Regions from separate parts of the Homo sapiens genome. Here region 2 is linked to region 1. The links come from fine-mapping of genetic effects on gene expression. Tissue or cell type: whole blood. Region 1 holds a variant in brackets; the other region holds the start of a gene. All regions are shown on one strand. Distances are from middle to middle.

Evidence for each region. PIP is the estimated chance that this variant, and not a neighbour inherited with it, causes the effect.
Region 2: it holds the start of PXK, and the variant in region 1 is fine-mapped to the expression of PXK in whole blood (INTERVAL, PIP 0.96).

Annotation. Positions count from the first base shown.
Region 1 is chr3:58,413,854-58,418,013 of GRCh38, reverse strand. The region is part of intron 17 of PXK (PX domain containing serine/threonine kinase like); the gene reads right to left. Among named protein-coding and RNA genes, the nearest start is that of PDHB, 18 kb to the left of the region's middle. The variant C/T (reference allele first, on the strand shown) is at 2,261.
Region 2 is chr3:58,331,109-58,335,268 of GRCh38, reverse strand. It overlaps PXK (PX domain containing serine/threonine kinase like), which reads right to left and starts at 2,377. Exons shown (of 18, transcript NM_017771.5): 1 at 2,179-2,377. The coding sequence starts at 2,280. RefSeq lists silencers at 1,533-1,827, 2,074-2,603.

The DNA.
Region 1 (4,160 bases):
AACCCGTCTCTACAAAAAAATATAAAAATTAGCCAAGGGTGGTGGTGCACACCTGTAGTCCCACTCAGGAGGCTGAGGTGGGAGGTTAAGGCTGCAGTGAGCCGTGATTGCACCACTGCATTCCAGCCAAGGTGACAGAGAGAGACCCTGTCTCAAAAAAACAGATAGCAAGGCAACAGGCCTGTCTAATCCCAAAGGAGGGTGGGAGGGAATATTTGTGTGTGTGTAAATTGGGACCTTTAAAACCAATCAGTTCTATGAATAGAGTATAAATACTAGTTGGTGATACTACCATGAAATAAACCAGGATAAAGAATTTTAAAGTCCTGGAAAAAGTGACCTTCCTGAGGCAGAAAACAACCTTTTGCAGAAAAGACAGTGCTAGGAATGTTCTTACTGAAAAAACAGGGGTCTCAGCAAAAGAGTATTAGAGAATCCCACCCCACCCAATGGAACTGCCAGCAGACTTAAAGAAAGGATATTTCTCCCATCAGCTTGGTAAGGACCTCAAGAAGGAGCCCCCAGAGAAGAAGCTACAGTAAGAAAAGGGAGGGGCCCCAACCCTTACATAGTTGCTAGAAAGGGCTCATAAGGGTAAGACCCCTTCACTTAGAAACTGAGATTAAAACCACCTTTAGCTGCCATAAATGTGCTTACAACCGATGCTTTCGGAAAGAAAGGCACTGCTGCTGAATTCAACTTACCTAAGCTCATCTATTGCTGCTGATCTATTGCTGAGCAAACTGCCAAAGGCCAGAGTTCACAGTGGATTTAGGATTTAGAGTGTGCTTGATTAGAAAGAACTGTGAGGCCAGGTGCTGTGGCTCCCATCTATAATCCCAGCAATTTGGAGGCTGAGGTGAGAGGAGTGCTTGTGCCCAGGAGTTTGATACCAACCTGGGCAACATGATGAGACCCCTGTCTCTACAAAAAATTTAAAAATTAGCTGGATGTGGTGGTGCACGCCTATAGTCCCAGCCTCTCAGAAGGCTGAGGCAGGAGGATCACTTGAGCCCAGGAGAAGACCGACCTCCAGTTCTGCAAGGAAGAACAGCCTAAGCATGGGCTGGCCAGCCAAAAGTTGCAATCCTGGCCGGGCACAGTGGCTCAAGCCTGTAATCCCAGCACTTTGGGGGCCGAGGCGGGTGGATCACTTTGAGGTCAGGAGTTCAAGACCAGCCTGGCCAACGTAGTGAAACCCCATCTCTATCAAAAATACAAAAATATTAGCCAAGCGTGGTGGTGAGTGCCTATAATCCCAGCTACTTGGGAGGCTGAGGCATAAAAATCGCTTGAACCCAGGAGGCGGAAGTTGCAGTGAGCCGAGATCTCACGACTGTATTCCAGCCTGGGTGACAGACCCAGACTCTGTCTCAAAAACAAAAATGGTGTAATCCCTAGGCTCAGAGTCCTCCTGCTCTCACTCTGCAGAGGCCTTGAAGGCAGAGCAAGCCTATGTAAATCAAAGATTTGCCAAGCATCTCCTACACACGCCCCATACCCTAGAAGAAGGAAAGCTGTACAGAGAGGCCAAGCAGAATCTGAACAAACAGGCCTTGCTGGGGTTAGATCATACCCTTTTTGTCCAATCACAATGAGATAGAAACTGGGACCGCCCCCAACTTTTAGGGACCTGTAAACCTCAAGGCATGGAAATAAGGGAAAATCCAAATGTTCCTTTAAGAAAAATTCCAGGCATCCAGCTAGCCCTAGAAGTAATTAAGTAACTTGGTAAACAAGAAGGTAATAAGTGGCTTAAGAACAATAGCCAAGGAAGTTAAAGCTCCAGAGAAGTTCCCTTGCCCTATAGAAACTAAAGATAAGATCTTAACATATGTCCCTGAGTTGTCTTTCAAAGGCTCAGGCCTCCACTGAAGACCCTCACCACAAAGATCCCAGATTAGGAGGAAAAGAAGACTAAACTGTACCTATTATCAATCCCACCGTCCTTTGTTCTAAGTTTCTTCTTGAGAGGCTTGGAGAAAGTCACTCCCCCTAGCAAGTTAGCATTTTTCTACTGACCCCAAAATTCTTAGAGCTTCTGCAACTAAGATCAACTGCAAGTCAGATCTCTGAATCTACCTGTGAGCACCCCCTACCCCCAAGATGTCCCGCCCTTTTAAGCTTAAACCAATGTGCAACCTCGGTGTACTGATTTATAATTTTGCCTGTAGCTTCTGTTTTCCTGAAATTTACCCCACCGTTAAAAATCCTTGCCTGTAAGCCATCTGGAAGGTCAGATTTTTGAGCATTTTGCTGC[C/T]TGGTCCTCCTTGCACAGCACTCTGCAATAAATGCCTTCCTTTCTGTCACTGCAACAGCCTTGGTGTGGGTATCTGATTTTATTGCACTGGGTGAGCAGACCAAAATTGGGTTCTATAACAACATTTCTATATGGTTGTCAATCATGCCTATCCAATGACGTCTCCATAAAAGGCCCAAGAGGGCAGGGTTTGGAGAGCTTCCTGATAGCTGAACATGCGGAGGTTCCTGAAGGGTGATGTGCCCAGGGAAGGCATGGAAGCTCCTTCCCCCACACCTTGCCCTATGCATCTTTTCATCTGTATCCTTTGTAACATCCTTTATAATAAACCAGTAAACATGTTTCCCTGAATTCTGTGAGCTGCTCCAGCAAATTAACGGTGGGAACTCCTACTTGAAGCTGGCCGGTCAAAAGTTCTGGAGTCCCATCCTTGCAAATGGTGTCAGAAAGAGCAGGTAGTTTTGGGGACTGAGCCCCAACCTGTGGGGTCTGACGCTATCTCCAGGTAGATAGTGTCAGAATTGAATTGGAGGACACCCAGCTGGTGTCCATAGCAAAACTGATTGCTTACTTGGTGGTGGACAGAACCACTCCCCCACACCCTGACATTTGGTCACAGAAGTCTGTCTGTGTTGATTATTATTGTGTTGAGTGACAGAATAGGGAAAAATACTTTTGAGTGTGAGTTTTTCCTAAACAGTGTCTATCATTTTGGAGCTTCTGAGAGGCACTGGAAATGTGACTCCATGAGAGCTAGGGCCTTGTCTAGCCATTTCTGTAACCCAGGGCCAAGCACAGTCCTTAGCAAACCATAGGTTCTCAGTAAATGCACCTTGAATGTTTATTCTTAAATGAATAAACTCCCTTGGGTTGAAATGCTTAGGGCCTGAAATGCTAGGTTGCCAGGCAAATGCTAAATATTAGTTACCATTTTCATGAGATGCATTACAGGAAATGCCCAGCAGAGGTCAGATTGCAGGCTGAGTCAATTTCATCAACAAAACATTAAGGAGATAAAAGAAAGGAGGAGCCAATATTTGCTGGGAACCTCTCATCTCTGCCAGGCACTCTCACTCTGCCAGGCATTGTGCTGGGGCCTCACATGTGCTTTCCTTCTAAATCCTCAAGACTCCCCTTCAGGCTGGGTGCTATCAAATTCACAGGAATGCCCCTCCCACTCACCTCCAAGTTTTCCCAACATTGACTCTAATTATACAAGATTCCTCTTTTTTTCTCTCATTCTAAAAGTTACCTTATCTCACGCAAACTTACTACTGTATGAGACAGCACCCATTTAAACACAGATAAATTAGAGAATTCCCCCCAAAAGTCCAAATAAATTGTAAATTCCCAAAGGCATTTAGAGATAAGAACCGGCAGTCAAGTGAGCAGGGGCAGATCTAACCACACAGACAGGGGCTGTGAACCCTTAAACAGACGCCTCAAGTGCCTTGCTTGTTAAAGGAGGATTTCTGGATTCTCACTACTAATTTTCTCCAATTTTCTTAATATGCCCAAGTGGTGTTAAATTAATATCCTATCTTCTAGAAAATGGCTTAATATAGTCCGGGCAGTAGATCACCAGACATTTCTGATCAGCCTAAACAGTGTATCTCCATAAAAGACAAAAAAGGCCTATTTTCTGTCTTGATCAACATTTGGGGGCTTTCTTGGGAAATCTGCTGACAAAGATAAGGACAAGAATATCCTCCCATGGACCAGGTACTTTGCTACCCAAAACAGGCCCTAGAACATTCAGCAGTAAGGCACCAGTAGCCACCCTCAGCCAGAAGTAAGTCATTCACACTAGTCCCCTTGCTCTCATTTTCTTAGGAGGGTCAGTTAGAAGCATTTGAGTGGAGCTGAAGAATGCTCTTGGCAGCTCCTGGGTGCTGTGTTA
Region 2 (4,160 bases), 83 kb after region 1:
CCTGTGAGTCACTGTCTTTTGTGGTCAGTCATCCCTACAAGAACTGCCATTTTCTACCCTAAATTATTTTATTTTTTAAAGAAAAGATCTGCAGGGCCAGGTGTGGTGGCTCACATCTGTATACCAGCACTTTGTGGGGCTGAGGCAGGAGAACGGCCTGAGCCCAGGCGTTCCAGACCAGCCTGGACAACATGGTGAGACGCTGTCTCCACACACACACACACACACACACACACACACACACACACACCAGCCTGGACAACATGGTGAGACGCTGTCTCTACACACACACACACACACACACACACAGACACACACACACACACACACACACACACACCCTTACAATAAAAACAGAATCCTATTACATCTTTCGCCACCTAGCTAAAGCACTGATCTCTAAGTTATTTTTTCAATGTTTACAATTACCATTTTACATAAACAGAAAAAGAGGCATAGTAAGGTTGAAGTTGGATTATTTAGTCATTTGATAAACACATTTGAAATCCTATCAAAAACCAGGGAATGAGACTCAAAAGTGAGGAAGAAGTGCCCCTCCTCTTGTAGCCTGGTGGAGACAAAAAGTAAAGAAGTAATTACAGGACAAACTAATCAAGATTAAGGTGTGGGTAGGCACATGGGCTGGGGCTGTAGAAATCATGAATGCTTCCTAGGGAAAGTAATTTGTGAGTATTTAGAAACATCTATCTCTTTATTTTCAATACAAAATAAACCTAAAGGACTCGACACTATTCCCTGAAAGGTTATAAGACTTACTTGCCAATAGTCAAGTCAAAAATCAAATTTAATAGCTGAATTACTCTTGACTCCCTATCCTAAATTTCAACCCTTATGCCATACTCCCTTTAGGCACAAATGATAGCAAGTTTAACAAATTCTGTCCTGTATGTGCCTTCTCACATGTCTACAGAATAGGATTAAAGACACACAGCGTGAAATAAATAGCCCTTTTTAAAAAGATAATAATTTTCTTAACTGGAAGTGAATGCTTTGAACAATTCAAGCCCTACAAAGCACGGCTGTCAGAAGAGGAAACTGAGGTTCAAAAAAGTCTCACTTTAATACAACAGAATAAAAGGTCTCTTTGAAGTCATCAGAAGAGCTTGAACGAAAAGAGAAACAGAAGGCTATTGTGAGCTTTAGCCTCCAGATGATGACCCCCCAAACACACTGCAATGGTAAACAAACAAGCCTCTGAGTCTGAATCTGATTCGGTGGACTGACAAAACATCACAATTGAAGGAATCTCTCTCCTCACTCATTACTTTTCCAAAAAAGTCCCACTAGCTGATAGCTCCAGGTTTCTTGCTGGTTCCTAGATTTATTGCTTGGAAATTATAATGCATAGTGGGCCTTTCAAAAAAAAAAAAAGGTACAAGCAAATGAAAACAACCACGGTTTTAAAGCCCCATAAAAGACCGTATATGTAGCAGAAATGAACCCTGCCAATGTTTACTATGAGGACCTATTACTCCTTTATGCTACTCGAGTGGATTTTAAACTCAAATGAATGCTACCACTGCCCACTAAAGAGCAAGTTAGAGAAGCACATTCATACACCTGCTTAACAGCGCCCCGACTGCCGCCCCCACCACTTCCCGGGACCAGGGCCAAGCGGCTGACCTGGAAACGGGGCTGCAGACCCCAGCCACTTACACTCTGCTGTCCCAACAAGTAGGCTCTGGAGTCACACTTCATTTGGCCCGGCACACCCTCATCCCCATCACCCAGACCCTCAGCTGCAAGGAGGAAATTACACGGCCTCAAAAAGGAAAAGGCTGGCGGCGGGCAGAAGTGGATGGTCCTGAGCGGTCTCGTTCCTGCTCCCCTAGTCCAAGGTGAGCCCGGGAATCCCGCAGCCCCCGCCCCCGCCCCCCAACTCGGAGTCGCTTTCCTGGTCGCCGCCGAGCTCCTTCCACCCCGCGGCGCCGGGAGCTGCGGTCCCCATCCTTGGCCCCTCCGGGCCTCAGCGTTCGCCTGGGCCCCAGGGGCCCTGACCCAGACCCAGCGGCGCGCCACAGCCTTCTCGGCCAGGGCCGCCCACCCTGTGGCCCGGTCTCCGTCCGACGACCCTGCCCGGCCCGCGCCAGGCAGCCCGCAGCCCCCTCGCGGCCCGGGGCCGCCCCACGCCGCCCGCCCGCCCGCTGGGCCGCGCACCGTGTGGGACTGCAGGCTCTGGCTCGCCTCGATGGCTGCTGTCAGCGGCACCGTGTCGTCCAGCAGCACCTTGCCGGCTGGCGGCTTCTCCATGAAGGCCATCCCGGGACGCCCGGCCGCCGCCGCCTAGGGACGCGAGGTAGGAACCCGAGGCGCCGACTCCCGCCGCCCGCCCGGTTCCACCGCCGCCGCTGTCAACACGCGCCGCCCCACGCGCCGCCGGGCCCGCGGGGTCCTAGCGCCGCCCTTCCCACGGCCGCCGCCCCGGAGTCCTAGCGCCGACCCAGCGCAGAACGTGTGGGGGCCGCCAGCACTGCCGCCCGCTGGCCCGCTCCTCCGCCTCGCGGCTGCCATGGGCCTGCGCTTCCCTGCTCCTCGCAGCCGCACCGCAGACCCGGTGCCCTTAGCTCCGGGCTTCGGACCAGGGAACACCACCCTAAGCCATCACTACCAGGATCCTCAGATCCAGAGACGCCTGGTCCTGAGCCCTGGGATCCAGGAATCTTCAGGGCGAGATTTCCAAACCAGGCCTCTCAGAACTGGGCTTTTCGGGGACCGTACCTCTTGAAACCCTCAGAACTGGATCTCTCTCATCCCCCAGGCCCAAGGACCCTAAAACTCAGAAAAAGGGCCTTTAGGATGGGACCCCCAGTCTGAGCCCTGCAAACCCAGAGACTTTCTGAAACAAGCCCTTCCTATTGAAACTTCACAGGGACTCTTGAACGTGGCTCCTCAGGCCTGAACACCTAAGAGCTGGACCCCATAATTGGAGGTCTTGGGCCCCAGAACCCTCAGACCCAAGCTCTAAGAACTGGAGACCCTATAAAATGGTCCAGAGACCCCTAGCCTCTACTCTTGGCCCCCACTGCGGGCTCAACCACATCCCTTAGACTTGGGAGTTTTTGATCCCACCATATGGACTAGAAGAACTTCAAACCAAGAGCCAAGCCAGAGAACCTTGGGATCAACTTCTCAGCCCTAAATCTGCCCACAGTCTGCCTGAACCCAAAGCCATAATCCTGGCACCACCTCATCCCCCCCATCTCCATATACACCTAGAAATTTCACCCACACTGCCCTCTCCTAGGGCAGCATTCCAGGATAGTGAAGAGTTAAATTTAGAATTGGAGGACCATCATCTCCATGGCTCTGGCATTTACCAGCTGTGTGATCTTCAATAAGTTACCCAACCTCTCTGAGTCCCAACTCCCCAATTTGCAAAGTGGAGATAATATTATTTGTATGAAAAGGTTAATACAAGGAATGCAGTAGACTGGGAAGGGGCTTGGCACATAGTAAAAACTCAAACGGTGGTCAGGCATGATCGCTCACGCTTGTAATCCCAGCACTTTGGGAAGCCAAGGTGGGTGGATCACCTGAGGTCAGGAATTTGAGACCAGCCTGGCCAACATGGCAAAACCCCCTCTACTAAAAATATAAAAATTAGCTGGGCATGGTGGCACGTGCCTGTAGACCCAGCTACTCTGGAGGCTGAGGCAGGAGAATTGCTTGAACCCGGGAGGGGGAGGTTGCAGTGAGCCAAGATCATACCACTACACTCCAGCCTGGGTGACAGAGTGAGACTCTGTCTCAAAAAACAAACAAAAAAACAGACAAACAAAAACACCTCAAACCGTGGTCAGGCATGATGGCTCACCTTTGTAATTCCAGCACTTTGGGAGGCTGAGGAGAGTGGATGGCTTGAGTCCAGGAGTTTAGCCTGGGCAATATGGTGAGACCCCGTCTCTACAAAAAAATTTTAAAAATACCTGGGCATGATGGCTCACACCTGTGGTCCCAACTACTCAGGAGGCTGAGGTGGGAGAGTTTTTTGAGCACAGGAGGTTGAAGCCGCAGTGAGCCATGATCATGCCACTTCACTCCAGCCTGGGTAACAGAGCAAGACCGTCTCCGGAAAAACAAAAAAAAAACAAAACAAAGTCAATATTAGTTTCCTCCTTCCCCTACAGTTGACAGAATGG